Linked DNA regions of Homo sapiens: region 1 is linked to region 2. Evidence: fine-mapped expression QTL. Tissue or cell type: whole blood. Region 2 holds a variant in brackets; the other region holds the start of a gene. All regions are shown on one strand. Distances are from middle to middle.

Region 1 (9,950 bases), 32 kb after region 2:
TATACCACAACAGCACATCACAAGCACAGGCTGAGCATCCCTGATCCAAAATGCTCCAAAATATGAAACTTTTCAGCGCCAACATGACACTCAAAGGAAATGCTCATTGGGAGCACTTCTGATTTCGGATGTTCAACAAGCATATAATGCAAATATTCCAAAATTCGAAACACTTGTGGTCCCAAGCATTTTGGATGAGGGATACTCAACCCGTAGTAAGGATTAGTACGGTCTCCTGAAACTTGTTTTTGATCCTGATGTAAAATATATTTCTTACATGGGTCACGGTTCAGAAAAGTTGAAAAGTGACTGATAAAATTTTGTAACAGAAATGTGCAAACCAAAATCTCATTTTTAAATCACATTTCTGCAAACTCAAAGCCGATTGGTGTTCCTGCCTCCATCTGAAGCTTTTCTTTTAATCTCAATTGAGTGAAACAACAAATGCTCAATGAAAGACGGAGTACTTATAGCCACAGATCAGCCTGATTTCTTTATGTTTATTCGTCACTATATTCATTCAGTTTCTGATGTCTATTTTTTTCCCCTACTGAAATATAAAACTGGGGTTTAAGAGAAAAAAAGCAAAGGCTTCAGCAACTTTCATTAAACATTTACTTTAAATGGTAACCTCATTCAGATCTACCACTTTCAACCCCTCCCCTAGGACCTGGCACATGAAAGTTCAATAAGGGTTGCTGATTGAATAAATTAAAAAATCAGCCTCCTATTTCTAATTTCTTTAGCCAATCTAACTAGCAATGAGATAAACTTTAATGTTTGCAAAAGTAACCATAAAACAGTAACACTGCATGATGAGTGGGAGTAGGAGGAGTAGTAGTTTCCAATCACAAATTTGCCACATAATATATGATCTCACCTTGGTCAGTTAAGTCTTCCTTGGTCTCCACATCTACAAAATGGTATAATATCATCTACATCTCAAACGGTACCGGTAAGAATCAAGAGGCATAAAAATGATTTGCAAAACATTGAAAAATGGTGTTTATACTAACATGGTTGTTATTTTTCAAGCATCCTTGCCTAGGCCACCTGAATTCACTCTGCTTTATTTTTTTATTTTATTTTTTTTTTTGAGACGGAGTCTGCCTCTGTCGCCCAGGCTGGGGTGCAACGGCACAATCTCAGCTCAACGCAACCTCCGCCTCCCGGGTTCAAGTGATTCTCCTGCCTCAGCCTCCCGAGTAGCTGGGATTACAGGCGTGTGCCACCACGCCCAGCTAATTTTTTGGATTTTTAGTAGAAACAGGGTTTCACCATGTTAGCCAGGATGGTCTCGATCTCCTGACCTCATGATCCGCCCACTTCGGCCTCTCAAACTGCTGAGATTACAGACTCTGCTGTCTTTCTAAGCCAACTCCTTATAAGCCCTGGTCAGGAGACAAGAAAAAGGGAGGGCTATGAGGCCTATCAGAGCAAGCCATAGAAGAGATACGGACTTCTCTCCTCCCATTTAGCAGACAACAGTCGAAAGCAGGTGTGTTTTTAATTGAATCTTCAGCAACAACTCTTAGGGAAGCCTCCCAGGGCAGTAGCAACTGCTAATTTGAAGTAGAAAATAAATGTGCTGTTGTTTTTCTTTTGTGGGGTGGGGGAGGAGAAAAGAATGTTCTTCCCCAAATGATACACTGTTACCATACAGTCTGTAGATGTACTTAGGTACAGGAATGACTGGCAGAAGCCAACTTACCTACCTCTAAAACTGTAAAACTGTAACAGCTGAAAATCTGATCATCTTTTCCACTGAGAAACACTTAAGATCTTTCATACTGAGAAAACAAAATAAAAACAGTTCCCATGTAACACAACCTAACAGATACATAATAGTTGAGAGGCAAAGTTATTAAGGAAATGTATCTTCTTTTCCCAAGGTTTAAGAATTCTGACCCACTCAAAAAAAAAAGTGAGGATAAAAATGAAAAGGTGAGATACTAGATATCACCTGGTAACCATCTGATACTGACTTCACGGCACCAGCCAAAGGGGCTTTAGTACCTTTTCAAACTGATTCGCTATCCACAAAGGCCAATTAACCTAGTAAGTGAGGCATTTGTGCTAGATTCCAACCTGATGAACACGGTATAAATATCAACCTAAAGGAAATATTGATAAAACTTTTTTTTTAAATCATTACAAGAGTCCTTTCTTGCTCGACTAGTAAGAAATTACTTTTTTCACCCAGTTCACTCTGACCTACACACCTCTAAATTCATACCAAAGCGGCTTTAGAAAATACCAAGAAACCACATCTGATTGTTACCCAGCAGTCAGCAGAAGTTTAGGTTTTGAATGCATGCTAAATTCAACGCTCCTTAAATGAGAGTCGACAAAAGAATATTCTTCAAGCATCTTCCCAGTCACTCTTAAGATAATAACTTAACTGTTGCTGCTTAAATGTATATTTATTTACTGCTTAAACATATATACACACATATATATACTGCTTATATATACACACACACACACACACACACATATACACACACACACACTTGGACTAAAATTCTAGCTGCCATTAAAGTGGTAACTTTGAGTTCCTATTTTTCCAGAATTCAAACCTGAACAGTGAAATCCAGTTTTCTTTTTACGGTTTCAAAAAAAGAAGGGAGAGGGATGATCTCACTGGAAGAGGCGAGCAGACCCCAGAGGCAGTCCCAGGTCTGGGCTCTGTGCTTCTCAGCCCTCAAGACACAGGGAAGGAGCCTGTTGGTACCTGTAAATCAACCAGTAATCTACTTGGATGCTTTTGGTTTTCTTCAAACACTTAACGTTCACTCAGCTAAACTGGCAGAGCAAACTTTCATGACATATCCTAACTGCATCCTAAGATTTCCATCCTAAGCATTTTGCCACCATTTCTGCGCCTACAAAGTTTACAAGAGTTAGCCAAGGACGGTAGCTTTGTTTTTCAAAGGGCTAAAAGCAACGACAACGAAAACAACAACAACAAAAAACCTTTAACTTATACATGTAAATTTGAAATTCAACTCCTCTCCCACTCCCCAAAAAGTCACTGGTAGGCCAAGGTGTCACCAAGTACCGAAAGAGAGGTTTACTGGGCGAAGAATTCCTGTAAATGCAACCAAGTCTCAAAGTGAAAGTCCAGGGTCCCGGGGCCGGGCCCGGGACCCTGGTGCGCGGCTGTCCGAGGGATTCCTCCTTCCAGAAGGTTTGCAACTCGCACTTTCCCCCGGTCCGCAGGTGCACGGGGGCTCCGGGCAAAGCCACTGCAAGTGGAACTCGCGGTTACCTTCCTCCACTCCACCCTGCCTACTCCGCTCGGGCCCGGACGAGTCCAGGCGCGCTCCCCGTCCCCGCCCTGCCCAGGTCTCCCGCCCGCCTGCCCGGGGGTGGGGGACGAGCCTGGGGGACGCGTCCTGGGGCCCTCCGCCAACCCGGCCACCACGCAGGGCCCCGGGACCCGGCGGGGGCCTCCAAGGGCATCACTCCACCTCACTTCTCCCGGGGACAGGGCCACCCAGGGCCTGCAGCTCCGGAAGAGTGTTGGGGCGAGGGGAGCGCGGAGGACTAGGCGCCCGCACCCCCACATCCGGACCCAGGCCGCGGTTCCTACGGCTCCTGCACGCACACGCCGGAGACCTCGGCCGCCGGAGCCGGCAGGGACGCCCAGGGACTCGGACTCGGACCCCCGGCCGAGCCGGGCGCGCGGGGAGCCAGGCTCCGGCGCGACCCCGGCCGGCTGAGCGTAGGGGGACGCCGTGTGGATACCGCCAAGTTGCTGCTTCCGCCCCGGTCGCGCATCCCGGCCCCGCGGCCCGCGCCCGCCTACCTGCATGCCGGGCAGGCCCGACTGCACCGGGGAGTGAGCCATGGCGCTCAGGACGGCCACTTCCTGGGACGGGACGGCCGGGCCGCGACGATCCGCGCGGGGCGGCGAGGCCCGCGGGCCGCGCGCAGCCCTCGGGCGGCGGGGCCGGCCGGAGCCCGAGGCCACCCCAGCCCTGGCGGGTCCCGGCCGGGCGGCGGGGGCTCAGCGGCGGGTGGCGGGCCGCGTCTCCATGCACGGCGCCAGGGAGGAGCTGCTGGGGGCGCAGGGCCTCGCGCGCACTGCCGCCGCCGCCGCTGCTGCCGCTACTGCTGGGCTGGAGCCGGGCGGCCTGGGCCCGCGCGCGCTGGCCGCTGGAGCCGGAGTGGGCGCGCACAGCCCGCCGAGCCCGCGAGCGCCGAGCGCGTCCCGCCCCGGCCCGGCCCCCGCGCCCGCCCCCACGGCCCGGCCGGGGACCCCGCCCCGCGCTTCCGGGAGGGGGAGGGGAGAGGCCGGTGGCCGCGCGGGAGCCCTAGGCCGCAGCCGCCGCCTGTCGGCCCGGCCCGGGTCCCAGCTGCTCCTGCGGCGCTCCCACGCCCCCGCGGGCGGGCGGCGGGGCCGGGAGGGGGCCTCGGCTGGGGCGGGCGCCGGGAGGGACCGAGTCGGGGCCGGAGGCTGGCCGCGTGCCCACCGGGCCGGCGCCGGGGCGAGCCTGGGCCGCGGCCCCCTCTTCCCGCCAGCCAGCCCACCCCGCCCCGGCGGCCTCTGGGAAAACGCGTCCCGGGCGAGCCCCTGAGGGCAGGATCGGAGTCGGGGGCACCTGGGGAAGGAGAGCGCCCCGTGGGGCCTCGGCCGGTGGCCTGTGCCAAAAGGCCGGGCAGAGCTGCTTCGGTGTCTGGGTGAAGTTTCCAGCCAACCCAAGAAGGAAACCGAAAGGGAAGAGGCCGAGAGAGAGGTTAATTCCTAGTGCTTTGGTTACCGAAAACAGCCCGGCTGGGACTGCTGGGCTGGGAACTTAGCTAAGCAGTGCGGAGGCTGAACCCCACCATCTCTGGGATCCGCAGCAAATCAGAAGCCCCCACCCACGATAAGGGGAAAATGGGGCGCAGAGGGCAGGGAGGAAGGGAAGAGAATGGAAGGAAAGCGCGTCTGGACTTTGAACTGCAGCCCTCTCCCTCTTTCCCTTGCCTCGGAAGCTCCAGGCCCACTCAGCACCAGTTCTGTCTCCTCTTTTCAGCCGCCTTCTCTCTAGCTACTGAGGGGAAAAGTCAGGATGAAGCGGGTCCCTCGGCCTCCAGAAGGTGTTTTATTACAGTCGCAAACAGGTAGAGCGGCAGCCACCCCAGTGATGACTCCCTGCTCCTTAGATTGTAGGGACGCTGGCACCTCACTCATGCTCCTAAGTGGCCATTTTGCGCCCTGGCTGGGCGAGTTAGGCAGACAAAATGAGCCCCCAAAAGTTTAAAGGCCTCCACCAAAGGAGTATTTCTTTTCTGAGGTGTCATTGTATTCCATCCACGAACTTCAGTTCCCCCGGGTGCTCTGGATCTGACATGGAGTAGGATGCTAACATCTAATCCCTTCTTTCCCTTTGGAAAGATGCATGTTTTTTCTCGGAGTCCTAGGGAATACCTTAGAATACTTTCATGGTTGTCATTGGTACACCCATCCCTTGAGGAGCCCTGCCACCCGTAAGTAGGACTGCAAGGAAATACAAAATTAAGAGAAGTATGAACCCTGATACCCAGGAACTTAAAATCAGGTGTATAAATTTTGTACACCTAAAAAATATGGTACCTAAAGAGGCGAACAGCAAAACAAGCAAGAATGTGAATCTTTAAAATGTTTCTATTCTTCAGCGCAGCCCAGGAATTCTACCTAAAGTAACATATCCTAAGGCAACAACCAAGAAGTGTGGAAGAATGCATGTAAGAAGACACAGTGATGTTTAGAATCCTGGGGAAACGGAACAGCCAAAAAGTCTCACAGAGGTTAAGTAAATAATAGCATTTTCATACGAGTACTATGTAGTCATTTAAAATTATGTCTTTCAGTACCTAGTAATGGGGAAAATGTATTCATTATATATTATTAAAGAAAATACAGGGTACAAAACACTGTATATAGACTGATCTCAAATGACTATATATATATTAATATATATGGCCTACAGACACACAGTCATGTATTGCTTAACAATGGGTATACATTCTGAGAAATGTGTTCTTAGTTGATTTTGTCACGTGAGCATCATAGAGTGTACTTCCAGAAACCTAGATGGCATAGCCTACTACACACCTAGGCTATATGGTATGACGTATTGCACCTGGACCACAAACCTGAACAGCATGTGACTGAACTCAATACTGGAGGCAACTATAACACAATGGTAAATATTTGTGGATCTAAACATGTCTAAGCATAGAAAAGGGACAGTAAAAATATTCTTCTAGGGTCAGCAGAGCCAGGGCAATAACCTGGCACCAAGATAAAGAGCAAGAAACTAGATGAATGGATGGAAATGTCTGGATGCTGATCTGAGACATTACCATGGTAAATGCTCAGAAATCACTTTGCAGTGGGCTAATTGCCAGCAAATAAGTCACAGCAGATGGGGGACAAAGGCCCATAGTACCCTGGGTATAAAAAAATAACCGGAATCCTAGTTTGTGTCCTGAGGCTAGTGAGGCTCAAAACAGGGAGATTCCGGCAGGATGTAACTTCTCTGGACACAGTGACTTGCATCCATTAGCTGGTCTGTTGCCCCGAACCCTGTTTATCTTCTCTCCACACTGACCATTGTTTCATCCTTTGACAATGTTCATACTGTTGAGCACCATTCTTATCGAAAGAAGGGAAGGAAGCAACATGGGAGTTACTGGTTCTCCTTGGCCCTATGCAGGTAGTACCGAGTATTCCCCATGGCAGAAGTAGGTCTCCACCTTATTTGTTTTTGCACAACAGAGATGATGCACAGGGCCTGAGCCCGGGATCAGATCCGGTGCAATTGCCTATTATGTTCATTCATTCACACCTTTTTTGAATACCAACTATTAATACATGTCAGATACCCAGTTCAGTACTGGGCATATAAACATTAGATCCTCAGGTGCCTCTTAACCCATCCTAGGGACCTGGTCTCCCAGAATCCTAACTTTGGATGAATACAATACCATAATTGATTAAACTTAGAGTGGCAATAGCTATCATTTCCACCAAGGAAAGAAAAGGATCATCCTCTCACCCTCTTCCTCTTGTCACTTTCCCTCCACCCCCAATGTATGATTACAACAGGTTATACACTACCGTAAGTCCAGAAGGAGATTATGAGAGTCTCCATAGAGATGATGCATTTTATGGTCTCCATGGAGATACTAACCCATTGAGTTATTTACTTTATCCATTGAATTATTTTTCTTCCCTGGTCCTCTTTGTCTTTTGTGTTCACTTAAGGACATCAGTCTGGCAATGAATTATGATCTGAAATATATTCTGGACCACAAAGAATATTTCCATACCCCTATATGGAGCCCCTCCAAATATAAAGCCCCTATGTATTTGCTGCCCCTAAGCTAGTTTGTACGCACTCTCAGCAGAGCTCAGAGAGGAACAGAAAACAAGAATTCCACAATCAATCCCTTCACTTTTCTTTCTAAGTTGAAAAGATAAACACCCCCAAATGCTGCTTTATAAAGAACAGCTAGACAAGTAGAGCATTAGCAATTTAAATTCAGAGATTAAAGAAAGGGACTTACATGGTGAACTTTAAAGGGAGAAATAGGAGTAGCTTGGATAAGTAACTAACAGAAGGCTTAGACAAATTTCTACACATGTTCAGTAGGTGAAGACAAATTATCAAGATCAGTTTAAAGAAGAATGTCTAGTCATTGTTGGATGACACAATAGCAAGAAAAGGTATGCCAAAGCCCCAGAAAAATATCCCAGCTACATTGAGGAATGGTACCAATAAGGTTTCATTCTGTGCGTGGAGAGCTCAGAGGGCAGGCTCTTGCAGGGATATCACCCTAAGTAGGTTTTCAGTTGCACCCTGCCTTAGTTTGCTAGGGCTGCCGTAACAAAGAACCACCAACTGGATGGCCAAAACGACAGAAATTTATTTCCTCACCATTCTGGAGGCTGGAAGTCCAAGATGAAGGTGTCAGCAAGATTGGTTTCTTCCGAGGCCTCTCTCGGGCTTGTAGCGGCCAGCTTCTCCCTCTGTGTTCTCGTGGTCTTCACTGTGTGTTCCTGTGTCCTAATTTCCTGTTTTTATTATTTATTTATTTATTTATTTATTTATTTATTTATTTATTTTGAGATGGAGTCTCGCTCTGTTGCCCAGGTTGGAGTGCAGTGGTGAGATCTCGGCTCCCTGCAACCGCTGTCTCCCAGGTTCAAGCATTTTTCTTGCCTCAGCCTCCCTGGTAGCTGGGACTACAGGCGAGCGCCACCACACCCGGCTAATTTTTGTATTTTTAGTAGAGACGGGGTTTCACCATGTTGGCCAGGCTGGTCTCGAACTCCTGGCCTCAAGTGATCTGCCCACTTTGGCCTCCCAGAGTGTGTGAGGCACCACGCCTGGCCCTAATTCTTTGTTTTTAGAAAGATACCGGAGTCGTACTGGATTAAGGCTCATCCCAATTACTTCATTTTTGCTTAGTTACCTTATTAAAGTTCCTATCTCCAAATACAGCCACATTCTAAGGTACTAGGAATTAGGACTTCAGCATAGGAATTTTGGAGGGACACAAGTCAGCCCGTAACACACCTCCTTTTCTGCAAATGTGTGTCTGGTCAGCCCCCCTTTAGCTGGGTCTTCCAGGCTCAGCTTCAGGAATGAGAGCTTCCTTCTCCCTTGCCAAGGCCTGTGGACCTTTCTGCGCACTTCACATTGCACACTTCTGCTAATAAGCATTGCTTCATATTTCCTTGGGTGTAGGCCTTAAACTTTATCTTGCATAGAAACCAGAACACTAGTCTCCAATCACTGTACAACTGAGAGCAGAAACAGAGAATGCATAGGTGTTTGCTTGATAAAATATTCCTGATTAAAAGAAATCATCTGGAACACGTGACAAAAATCTGCCAGAAAAGGGTTCAGAATATTTTGCAGGCCTATCCATACTCAGTTCAGGCAAAAGATTTAAACAAGATCCATCTTTCTCCCCCACTGCCTCCTCCCCTGTGTTGGGAGGTGCAATTTACCAGGGGAGTTGGGGGTTGAGCCTCCAAGGGGGCTCTTTGTTGCACATGCTCTCTGCTGCAGTTCTGGGGGCTCACACCAGGGAACATCAGGCTGTTTAGAAGGACTCACTTGAACGAGCTCACTAGAAAAATTCTCATGTGCAATTTTGCTTGGCAAAGAACCAATGAACAGGGCTTGTCACCCTCTAAACAGTGGCCACTTGACCCTGCCAATCTGCTCATAAAGACTTCAGTATGCAAAGATTCATCAAGAGCTGTGTGTGTAGATTTCCCTTCCTCTTGAAGCTGGATTTGCTTTCAGACATACCCAGAAAGGGCATACATGAAATCATCCCCAGAAGGATGATGTCATCCAGCCTACAGTCACACAACTGCAGCACTAGTTTTTAAAAGCTCTTGGCCCTGTTTTCTGACAAGGAAGACAAATTGTAAGAAATCATTTTAATTTTCACTTCAACCAGATCCAGGGGATTATGTGCTTGAAGATCATTGTACAAGCACACAAAGGTAAAATGTGCCTATGAGTTGCAGATACTCATTCCACAATGCACAAAACTTAAGTCAGCTTAAAATCATCACAAAAATGTTGACCTATACACTACCCTATCATCAAAGCTTCACCTGCAAAAAGGGCAAGCATGTTGTCTTTTACCTTAATTTTCCTGCCATTTTTTAAATTTGGTTTCCCAAAGAAGCTACGTTGGAGATACTGTTAGTCAGAAGTCTTTGAATAACAAATGACAAATACTTAGCTCAGACCTCCATAAGCAAAAAAGGGACATTTTAGTTCAGCAACAAAAATCAACACTTGGCTAAATCAGGCTTGGATCAATCCAAGAAGATGAGTTCAATGATAAAATCAACTCTGTCTTCCTCTGCCTCTCACCTCTTCTCAGCCTCTCCTAGATGAGAACCTCTCATCTAGGTTCTCTAGGTATGGTGTCAAGAGCTGCCCCAT
Region 2 (9,950 bases):
ATTAAGTAAATCTACTGAGGCTCCAGAGGAAGGTCTTCAGGACTCAGACCTTAGTTATAGACTAAGAGAAGTTGCTCACTAATGTCTTTAGCTGCACACTTACATACAAGAATATATAGCTTAGAAGGTATATAAGCTCTGGAAAACTTTGTAATTTTGAGTTGGTCCGGGGATAATTTCCAGGCCTTCTCCCTGTAACCGGCTGCAGGAAATAAAAACGCTCTTCCTCTCCAGTTCATCTGCATCTCATTATTGGGCCCGAGAAATAGCAGCCTGACCCTCAGTTTGGTCTGGGAACAGCTTCAAGCTGATCAAAATCAGGACCCAACACTTTCAGCTGCATCCCGACCAACTATGAAGGGCAGTTTGTTCAGATGTTCAAAGGAAACAGTGTTTTCCTAATGGCAGTATTATGAAAACTTTTGAGGTTGTGAGCAAAGAGACCATGATGTCAGCATCAGAGCCAGAAAGTGGGAGGGTTCAGGAAAATTATAACCTAATTTACAATAAACTTTTAAATTCTTTCAAGAGATATTTCTTATTTTTGACTTAGAAGCTGCCAATGTAATAAATGTACCAGATGCTGTCCCTACAGAATTAAATCATGTAATCCCCATCTCTTCAAAGATAAGGAAACCAGAACACAAAGGTGAGATGAACTGTAGGAAAGATTTGAACCAGTTTGTCTCAACAGCCTGTGCCCTCATCCATGACACTTTACCCTTTTACCATGAGGAAGTGTATTTTATCTGCACATCTAAACAGCACGCACTGGTATTACTGAAGCCCGGGGGTTAGCAGGGTGTATCACATAAATTCCGGGAAATGTGGAATAGAGTGAGCAATACTTTTCCACTCACTACTCCATTACTGCTGCTACAATATTTAGTTGAGAAAATAAAATCGTGCATTTCAAAGCAATCTCTTCCTTGGCACAGATCAAAGGACACAGAACACAAGTGAGTCAAAGCTCGTTCCATCTCCACCCGCTGTTCTCCAAGGGTCCACTAGGACTTTAACCATGGGCCGTTTATAACTCATTTCTTATCCCGACCTGAAGACAAAGGTTATTTACAAGACTGCGTTATTTTCTGGACATGGTAATCAGCTCTCATGATTTAATACTTTCTTGACATCACACTCCACCGACCCTAGCGCTGACTGATATGTCAGCCATTTTAAAGCATTGTAAATGGGACTTAAATAAGCAACGTTTTGGAAGGTGTGCAAACCTAAATAAATATTGCTGAGTAGGGACCATTCCAGCCAACTCTCTCGTCTGTTAAGGTAAAAAGGACTGACAAAAACAATACATTCATCCTATGCACAAACAACAACAACAACAACAAAAAAAACGGCCAATTGGTAGGTTCCAACTTCCTCCCAGCTCTGCCTTTTACTGATGGTAACCAGAACAGGGCCAGCCTCAAACTCCAGGGTCAACTCAAGTGACAACACAGTAACCCCTCATACTCACAGAGCACTCTGTGTTTTTCAGGAAACCAGCATATAAATATAAATGGCTTCCTAGACCCAAGAAACAGCCTACAAGGTAGTTCATGCACTTCAGATAAAGAAACACACATTAAAAATCATACAGCTGAGCCTAATAAATGCTCGGGTTTCCCGGTTCCTAGGTTCCTTTCCATATTAGTCCCTTGTTCCTGGAGTGAAAGTGACGGGAAGCAAAGCAGCCCACAGCCCTAGAAAGGCTGATGGTGCAATCTACTTTCTATGCGTTTGTCTTTTACTCTACTTTCTCCATCTACACGTCCAAGTACCAACGCTTACCCTGTATGTCCGTAAGAGGTCAGTTGAAATCTAGACCCCCTCATTTCCAAACAACACCAGAACACGCGGCCTGACAGGAACGGGTGTATTTGTGGAGACGATGGGACGGAGTACCAAGTCTCAGATCCACCACTTCCTGTAGCAGAAAACAGCAGCCAGCTAGCGTGGACCTGGAAGGCCCAAAGACTGAAGCCTCCGGGGGCTTACAGGTGCCAGCAAAGGCCAAGGGAGGGGGGAGAGGCCGCAGCTCCGCTCCGGCTGGGAGGAGACCAGTCATGCCATCCTCCAAAGTTTACAGCTTCGGGAAAATCCTCTCTATCCAAGTGTCCCCACAGAGTTGTTTTTTTCCCCAAAAAAAGAGAACTAAACACTTGAAGGGCAAACCAAATGAATAATTCAACCAATGTGCTCCCGCGGCTGGACCTGACAGGAAGTCTGCATACATTTACTTAACTGCGGCTCTCTCAGTACAACTCAACTTTGATTCGGCACTCAGATTTGAGAAACCTCGACCCTCCAGAAGCACCAAGCAAAAAAGGTCTCCAAGCACAAACACAGCTGCCCCAAATTCCCGGTCTGCCCAAACTGCACCTCTCAGAGTGGGGCCTCAGTCCTGCTCTCAGAACATTCTGGTGCGTAATAAAGGCACACACTACGAAAGGTCAAACAGCTGGTCTCCATCAACAGCAGCTGAGAAGCAGCAGGTGAGGCCAGGGTGGGCGCGGACCCGAAGACGCGGGTCTGATCGCTGCAGAGAGACAGAGAATACAGAGAGAGGGGAGGCAGCAACAGGAGACCCCGCACTGGGGCCCGGAAGCCCTCTACTCCCAAGTGGCCCCCAAGGATGGTGCTGAACTATGGTAGGACGCAGGACACCCCTCGACTGCAAGAGAGGAGCTGCCAGCCGCCCCGAGGGTGAAGCCTGCAGATGCGGTGCCGGTCATCAATGGCTTCTATTGAACGGATCACCGCCAGAAGCTGCCATCCACGACTCAGTATCCGGCAGACTCGGTCACCCACACGCATAAACCACATGCTATACAAAAGAAACTTGATTTTACTTCTGGGTCTTTTTTGATCCTAGGCTTCATAAGAACAGCACACAATGTAAATTGGCAAGTGTGAGTATCCTGGCTCTAATTTGGAGTCATGTTAGTGGACCTCAGGTTTAAAAATAGCTATGAAGAGGCTTCTAGTAAAAGCCATTAAATGAAAGGTGCATTTACGTTAGGCTGCTGTGGCCCACGCTGAAGTTAATAAAGGAAGGAGAGTGAGAAGAAAAGTCCATCTGCAATAAAACTAGGAACTACTCTCACCTGAACCCACAGATGACAAAGACTACCTGCCGGGCACAATGACCTCTGCCCCAGGCTGAGGCGACAACTGAGAACACAGCAGGACCTTAGGCCAGCACAGGGGCAGGAGGCTCTGAAACTGAGGTGGCAGGTACGTTCCCGTGGCCCAACTGCAGACACAGAAGTCCCCAGCAGGCCTGGCCCACGAGGGCATCTCCACTTCCCTAACCAGGAAGGTTTCCTGGAAGAGAGGCCAGCTTTGCACTGTGGGCCCCAGGCAACTGGGCCCTGACCCTGCATCTGGGAAGCAAGGGCCCTACTGGGAGTGGCGCAGCCCCCCTGGAGTATCTCATCCCGCCGGGTAGAGCAGGCAGAGGCACAGCCAGCCGGCAGAAGGCAGGGCAGGCCGGAGAGGAGAGGACAGAGCCGCCCGCCCCAGGAGGCAATGCTCCCCACCCTCCAAGCCGACCTGAGGCCAGGGTACATGGCAGGTCCCCTCCTAAGCCAAAGAATCCACACCGAGGCATGCGGAGACGCCTCTACAAGGAAAGACAGTGGTGAAAAAGAAAACAAGCAAAAGGAAAATATTTCCGAATTCCCAAGGGAGAGGGGAAACATTTCAGAAAAATACTCTCAACTCTCAAAGAAATTACAGACAATTCGGAGCACCTTTTAAGTCTCCAAAAAGCATTAACACAGCTAGAGATGAAGGTAATAAAAATCATTATCAAAATAAACATCACATTAAAAGCAGCAAAAAGTAGAAAACAATGACAAAAAAGCATATCATCTGAAGAATGGAAGCGCTAAAAAGATGGAAAAGTGATCAGAAAAGATGTTCCATACCTGAAAATGAAAATAAGCAAAAGGCAAAAACCCCACTTCCAGTTAGTTTATCCTAGGGAAATAGACAAGTGAAAAGATTCATATGTCCAAAGTTTTCCAAAAATGTTTTTAAAGCTGCAAACTACCTAGGTAGACATCAATGTAAAATTAATGACAGGAATTGGTGCCCTTTTGGTTGAGGGACAGGCGTACTCCTGCACACATTCAAAGAAAACATGTGGAATGAGGTACACTGAGATGTTAACAGTATGTTCTCTCTGTTTTTCTGCACTGTCCCAGTTGTTAGCAATGAGCCTATTTCACACAGGCATATTTCGGGAAAAGCAGGGCAACATCTCAATTTTTAACGTACACACGTGCAGATCAAAAAGTGCCAGACTAGGCCGGGCGCAGTGGCTCATGCCTGTAATCCCGGCACTTTGGGAGGCCGAGGCGGGTGGATCACGAGGTCAGGAGATCCAGATCACGGTGAAACCCCGTCTCCACTAAAAATACAAAAAATTAGCCAGGCTTGGTGGCGGGCGCCTGTAGTTCCAGCTACTCGGGAGGCTGAGGCAGGAGAATGGCGTGAACCCGGGAGGCAGAGCTTGCAGTGAGCCGAGATTACGCCACTGCACTCCAGCCTGGGTGACAGAGCAAAACTCCATCTCAAAAAAAAAAAAAAAAAAAGTGCCAGACTTGGCTTCAGGAAGAAGATTTTAAGTTTATTCCTGGCTGCTCAGTCAGTGATTAGACAACTCAAATCCATTACCCTAAATCAATATGGATAATAATAAAGAAGCTAAAAGCGGCAAATGTCTTTCTATATTAGATGAAACATCCTGAATTATATTACACCAAACACTGTAATTACTGCATGACTTTTAAACAATTCTTTCCATAGGGAAAACCGACAAAATGAAAATACAAAAAAAGAGAAATCATTCAAGAAAAAAATGTTACCTTAAAACTCTTCTTCTGAAGCTAAAAAAAACATGAAAGTTTAAAGAAATTGGGAGATCACAGGAATTGCTTAAGATCTGAATATAATTCAACACCAGTCTTAAAGTCCTTGTCATTCTGGGTTTCACTGATGAAGGCTAAGAGTACAGGATTAACTTCTGATACATGAAATTGTTCAGTTTAAAAGACAATGCACAGATGACCGCTGCGGCAAAGGCTGGGCAGGGTGCTGGGGTCCACCTGATGCCTAGTGCCACCCCCACTGTCCCCCAACCCCTGTTCACAAGAGACAGCTGTGAAAGGGCCACT[A/G]GCACACAGCATGGCACCTTATCCCAAAGGCAGTGCTATCCCAGATGATCTGGTGAGCAGTTCAGGCAGATCTCAAATGGCCTGGTCCATCTGAGAAAGCCCTTACTTTCAAAAGCCTTCTATCTACCAACTCTTACAAAAACACACACGAGTAAATCACTTTAAAAGCCTTTTTTATAATTTTGCTTTAAAAAAAAAATGAAATCCCCAGACCTGTCAAAAGCTGAATCTATGCCAGAAGGAGACCAGATTTTGCCAAGAATATGGTGAACAGGGACTTCCTTCAGTCCCCTGGCCACAAGTGGCCTCACTCACCACCAGATGGGCTGCGTGTCCTTCCACCTGGTCTCGCAGTCAACCAACCCAGAGATAAGCAGGCCAGCTTATCCTCCAAACATCGCCCACAACAGGCCTGAGCTTCAACCCTACAAACGCAGGTGGGGCAGCCCCTATCACGGAAAGTCAAATTCCCATTTTCAGTTTCCAATGAGATGTCAAGAACCAAGCAACAGGCTCAGGAAGAGCCAAGAAAATTGACTTTCTCAACTAAAAAAAGGCCAGAACACATGAACTCCTTGTGTTTGTCATGTGGACTCCAGTTACTCACACCTGAATCTCTGAGGCCCTGAACATCTGTGTTCCCCCTTCCTTCCATATCTAATTGTTGTTTTTTTTTGTTTGTTTGTTTGTTTTTGAGATGGAGTTTCACTCTTGTTGCCCAGGATGGAGTGCAATGGCACCATCTCGGCTCACCGCAACCTCCGCTTCCCAGGTTCAAGCAATTCTCCTGCCTCAGCCTCCCGAGTAGCTGGGATTACAGGCATGTGCCACCACACTCAGCTAATTTTTTTGTATTTTTAGTAGAGACAGGGTTTCACCATGTTAGCCAGGATGGTCTCGATCTCCTGACCTCGTGATCCACCCGCCTCGGCCTCCCAAAGTGCTGGGATTACAGGCGTGAGCCACCGCGCCCAGCTATCTAATTGTTTTAAGGGGTAACTTTTATGTTAAAATTTATATTAAAATTGTGGCCAGGCCCAGTGGCTCACACCTGTCAACCTAAGCACTTTGGGAGGCCAAGGTGGGAGAATCGTTTGAGGCCAGGAGTTAGAGACCAGTCTGGGAAACATAATGAGACCCCATCTCCACCAAAAATTTAAACAATGAGCCGGGCACGGTGGCACACGCCTATAGTCCCAGCTACTCGGGAGGCTGTGGCGTGAGGACTGCTTGAGCCCACCAGTTCGAGGCTATAGTTAGCCATTACCACATCGCTGCACTCCAGCCTAAGCGACAGAATGAGACCCTATTTCTTTAAAACAAAATTAATGACCAACTATGATAAAAAGTCAATAGGTTGTTTGCAGTCAGCTGGTTTTCCAGTATTTGTACTGAGACACCTCTTGTCCAGGATTCCTGTAATGACACGCCATGGGCTGGGGAGGCAAGATTAAGAGTAAAATCAATAGCTGTGAAATGGTTTTCTCTGCAAGGCTCCCAGTTGTATTCAGCCATCAATTTAGTAAACTTCGCCTTATTACCAACTCTTTGTGACCAAAGGAGCAAACTGAGAAAATACATGATGTGCAAGCACCTTTCCTATACTTCAATATCACAGCCTCATTCACCTTCTCATCTCCAGTAAACTGATCCCACACTGTAGTTCTTATCCACACAGAGCAAACTACTGCTAAACCCTCATGGTAGATGAGGCTATTTATGCAGCTGGGCCACCAAGCCCTCCCCTCTCTCCCTTAAGAACTCAGAGAGACTCTAACTTCCCGCTCCAGCAGCAAATCTACTGGAGGAGCTGACACCACATGAAGAGAAGAACGTGGAGTCTACGGCCAGGTGCATGTGGCTTCAAATCCACCTCCACCTCTTACAAGTTATTTGCCTCTCTAGGCCTTAGTTTACTCACCTGTAAAAAATACAGAAAAATGCATACATATTATAGTTCCTGGGGCTAAAAATAAGATGTTTTCTTATTCTCCTGGGGCTAAAATAAGACAATTTTTTATTTTCCTGGGGCAAAAACAAAGTTTTTTTTAAAACTGGACATAGTAAGTGCTCCCCTGTTCCCATTATGGTGTGACCTGCAGCCTCAGCTGTGTTGTCCTTTCTAAGCCACAACTGCCAATGCTACATAAAGAAGCAGCTGAATCACAAGTGACAGGCACACCCAGTAAATTCCAACTAAAGGCTGAGATAGGAAAATAAATCATCAAGTGACAAGAAACTGTCTCATCTCAAGGGTTTACCCTCAAATCACACAGCTGATGATGCGTACACTTCACTATTATTCTCCCTCGTGTCACATCTTTCTACATGAAAATAGAACAAATGGCTGGGCACGGTGGCTCACACCTGTAATCCCAGCACTGTGGGAGGCTGAGGTGGGTGGATTACCTGAGGTCAGGAGTTCGAGACCACCCTGGCCAACATGGCGAAACTTTGTCTCTACTAAAATTACAAAAATTAGCCAGGCATGGTGGCAGGCACCTGTAATCCCAGCTACTCGGGAGGCTGAGGCAGGAGAATCACTTGAACTTGAGAGGTGGAGGTTGCAGTGACCCAAGATCATACCACTGCACTCCAGCCCAGGCGACAGAGTGAGACTCTGTCTCAAAAAAAAAAAAAAAAAAAAAAAAATAGAGTAAATGACTAGATCTACCATATGACCTTCAATACACATGTGGCTCTCCCAAGGTATGCCCTTTAGTAATAACAAATAGAGAAGACCCCGATCAGTGCCCCGGGGTAGGACAATGGTCATGAGGCCTCCTGCAATTAGGCTGTTGCTAATACAAGCCCCAATGGAGACACTATCCTGAGACCATGTAGATAACACATGCTGTGAAACACAATTTCAGTGAAGAGAATTTTTTTCTTCTGACCATCTGAAACATATGCAGCTAACCACCAACAATGCTTGTGCAACTTCCTCCATTAGCCTAAATACTTCTGTCTTAGTCAGCTCAGACTGTGCAACTTTTATAAACAACATCGATTCATTGCTTACAGTTCTGGAGGTTGGGAAGTCCAAGGTCAAGGCACTGGCAGATTCGGTGTGTACTGAGTGCCATTCCTCATGGATGGCACCTCCTAGCTCTGTCCTCACATAGCAGAAGGGACAAAGAAGCTCCCTCGGACCTCTTTTGTGAGGGCACTGATATGGTTGGAGGTCCCCTTCAAACTGCATGATGAAATGCAATCCCCAGTGTTGGAGGTGGGGCCTGCTGGGAGGTGTTTGGATCATGGGGGTGGATCCCTCGCGGCTTGGTGCTGTCCTCATAATAGTGAGTTCCAGCAAGATCTGGTTGTTTAAAAGTGTGTGGCACCTTCCATCTCTCTCCACTGCTCCCACTCTCGCCATGTGACTGCCTGTTCCCACTTCACCTTCGGCCATGAGTCAAAGCTCCCTGAGGCCTCCCCAGCAGCCAAAGAGAAGCCTGTACCATGCTTCCTGTACAGCCTGCAGAACCATAAGCCAACTAAACCTCTTTCCTTTATAAATTGCTTTATAGCAACAGAAGAACAGCCTGAGACAGGCACTAATTCCATTCATGAAGGCAGAACCCTCATCAGCTAATCACCTAATCACCTCCTAAAGGCCCCACCTCGAAACACAATTGCACTAAGATTCACAACATGACTGTGGAGAGCCATAAGCATTCAGACCACAGTAGCTACCTATTTCCTTGCCTCCTGACTATGCCTGGTGTAACCTCACAGTTAGGTGGTCTCACATCTCTTCAATGATCTTGACTTTTCCACAAGAATCTCACTTCCACAGGTGGGTCGTCTGCAGCATACTACTAGCTCATTAATACACTTTATTTATAGTGGCTAGGGTTGTAACACTGCAGGCTTCCCTTTGATGACTCAATTCAATACTCCACAAAGATTTTCATCCTAGTTCATGAAACGTCATTAACACTGTTAGTCATTTACAACTGAGGGAATTCTCTAGAAGCAGTAAAAGCTTTCTTGTTTCTTCTTTTTCATTTTACATAGGAACAGGCCAAGCACAGTGGCTCATGCCCATAATCCCAGCACTTTGGGAGGTCAAGGGGGGAAGATCGCGTGAGCCCAGGAGTTTGAGACCAGCCTGAGCAACATAGGGGGAACCTGTCCCTACAAAAAATAGTTGGGCATGGTGGTGCACACCTGTAGTCCCTGCTACTTCGAAGGTGAGGCAGGAGGATCGCCTGCGCCTGGGAGGTAGAGGCTACAGTGAGCCATGATCACACCACTGCACTCCAGCCTGGGTGAGGAAGCGAGACCCTCTCTCCAAAAACAACAACAACAAAAAGGAATGGCCTCTTTCTTGTAGTTTTGTCTTCTCTCTCTAAAGACAAACCATCAGTATTTATCACTCAAGTCCAGTTGTCCTTTCTAATACTTATACTGGTGGTCCCATGAAAGCTCAGGGACACAGCATCCTTTTCCCAGCAGGGTAGAAGCCTAAAGCTCTGGGCTCAAAGGTAAAAAAATACTCATTTGCATGTAATTTTGCATAAACTCTCTTGTTTAGTTCCAGATGCCCAATTCTAAGTATGCAAAATAAAATGAAATCATTTATACAGCTTACTGCTTCCAGTGTTTTCAATTCAATGCTTTAACAATAAAAGCAAAAAGAAAACCTTCTGAATCAATTTCTGAATTAAGTTCCTTAATCAACTTCTGAATTAAGTTGAAGATTAAGTTCAACTTAAAAAAAAAAATACATGCATATATATTGTGACCAGCCTATAAAAATCAACA

The links. PIP is the estimated chance that this variant, and not a neighbour inherited with it, causes the effect.
Region 1: STK24 starts here. The variant in region 2 is fine-mapped to the expression of STK24 in whole blood (INTERVAL, PIP 0.92).

Annotation. Positions count from the first base shown.
Region 1 is chr13:98,572,934-98,582,883 of GRCh38, forward strand. It overlaps STK24 (serine/threonine kinase 24), which reads right to left and starts at 4,174. Exons shown (of 11, transcript NM_001032296.4): 1 at 3,812-4,174. The coding sequence starts at 3,853. STK24-AS1 (STK24 antisense RNA 1) reads left to right here and starts at 4,322. Exons shown (of 1, transcript NR_046542.1): 1 at 4,322-5,908. RefSeq lists silencers at 1,684-1,743, 3,208-4,077, 4,128-4,437, 4,458-4,607 and an enhancer at 4,698-4,887.
Region 2 is chr13:98,541,052-98,551,001 of GRCh38, forward strand. The region is part of intron 1 of STK24 (serine/threonine kinase 24); the gene reads right to left. Among named protein-coding and RNA genes, the nearest start is that of STK24, 31 kb to the right of the region's middle. The variant A/G (reference allele first, on the strand shown) is at 5,184.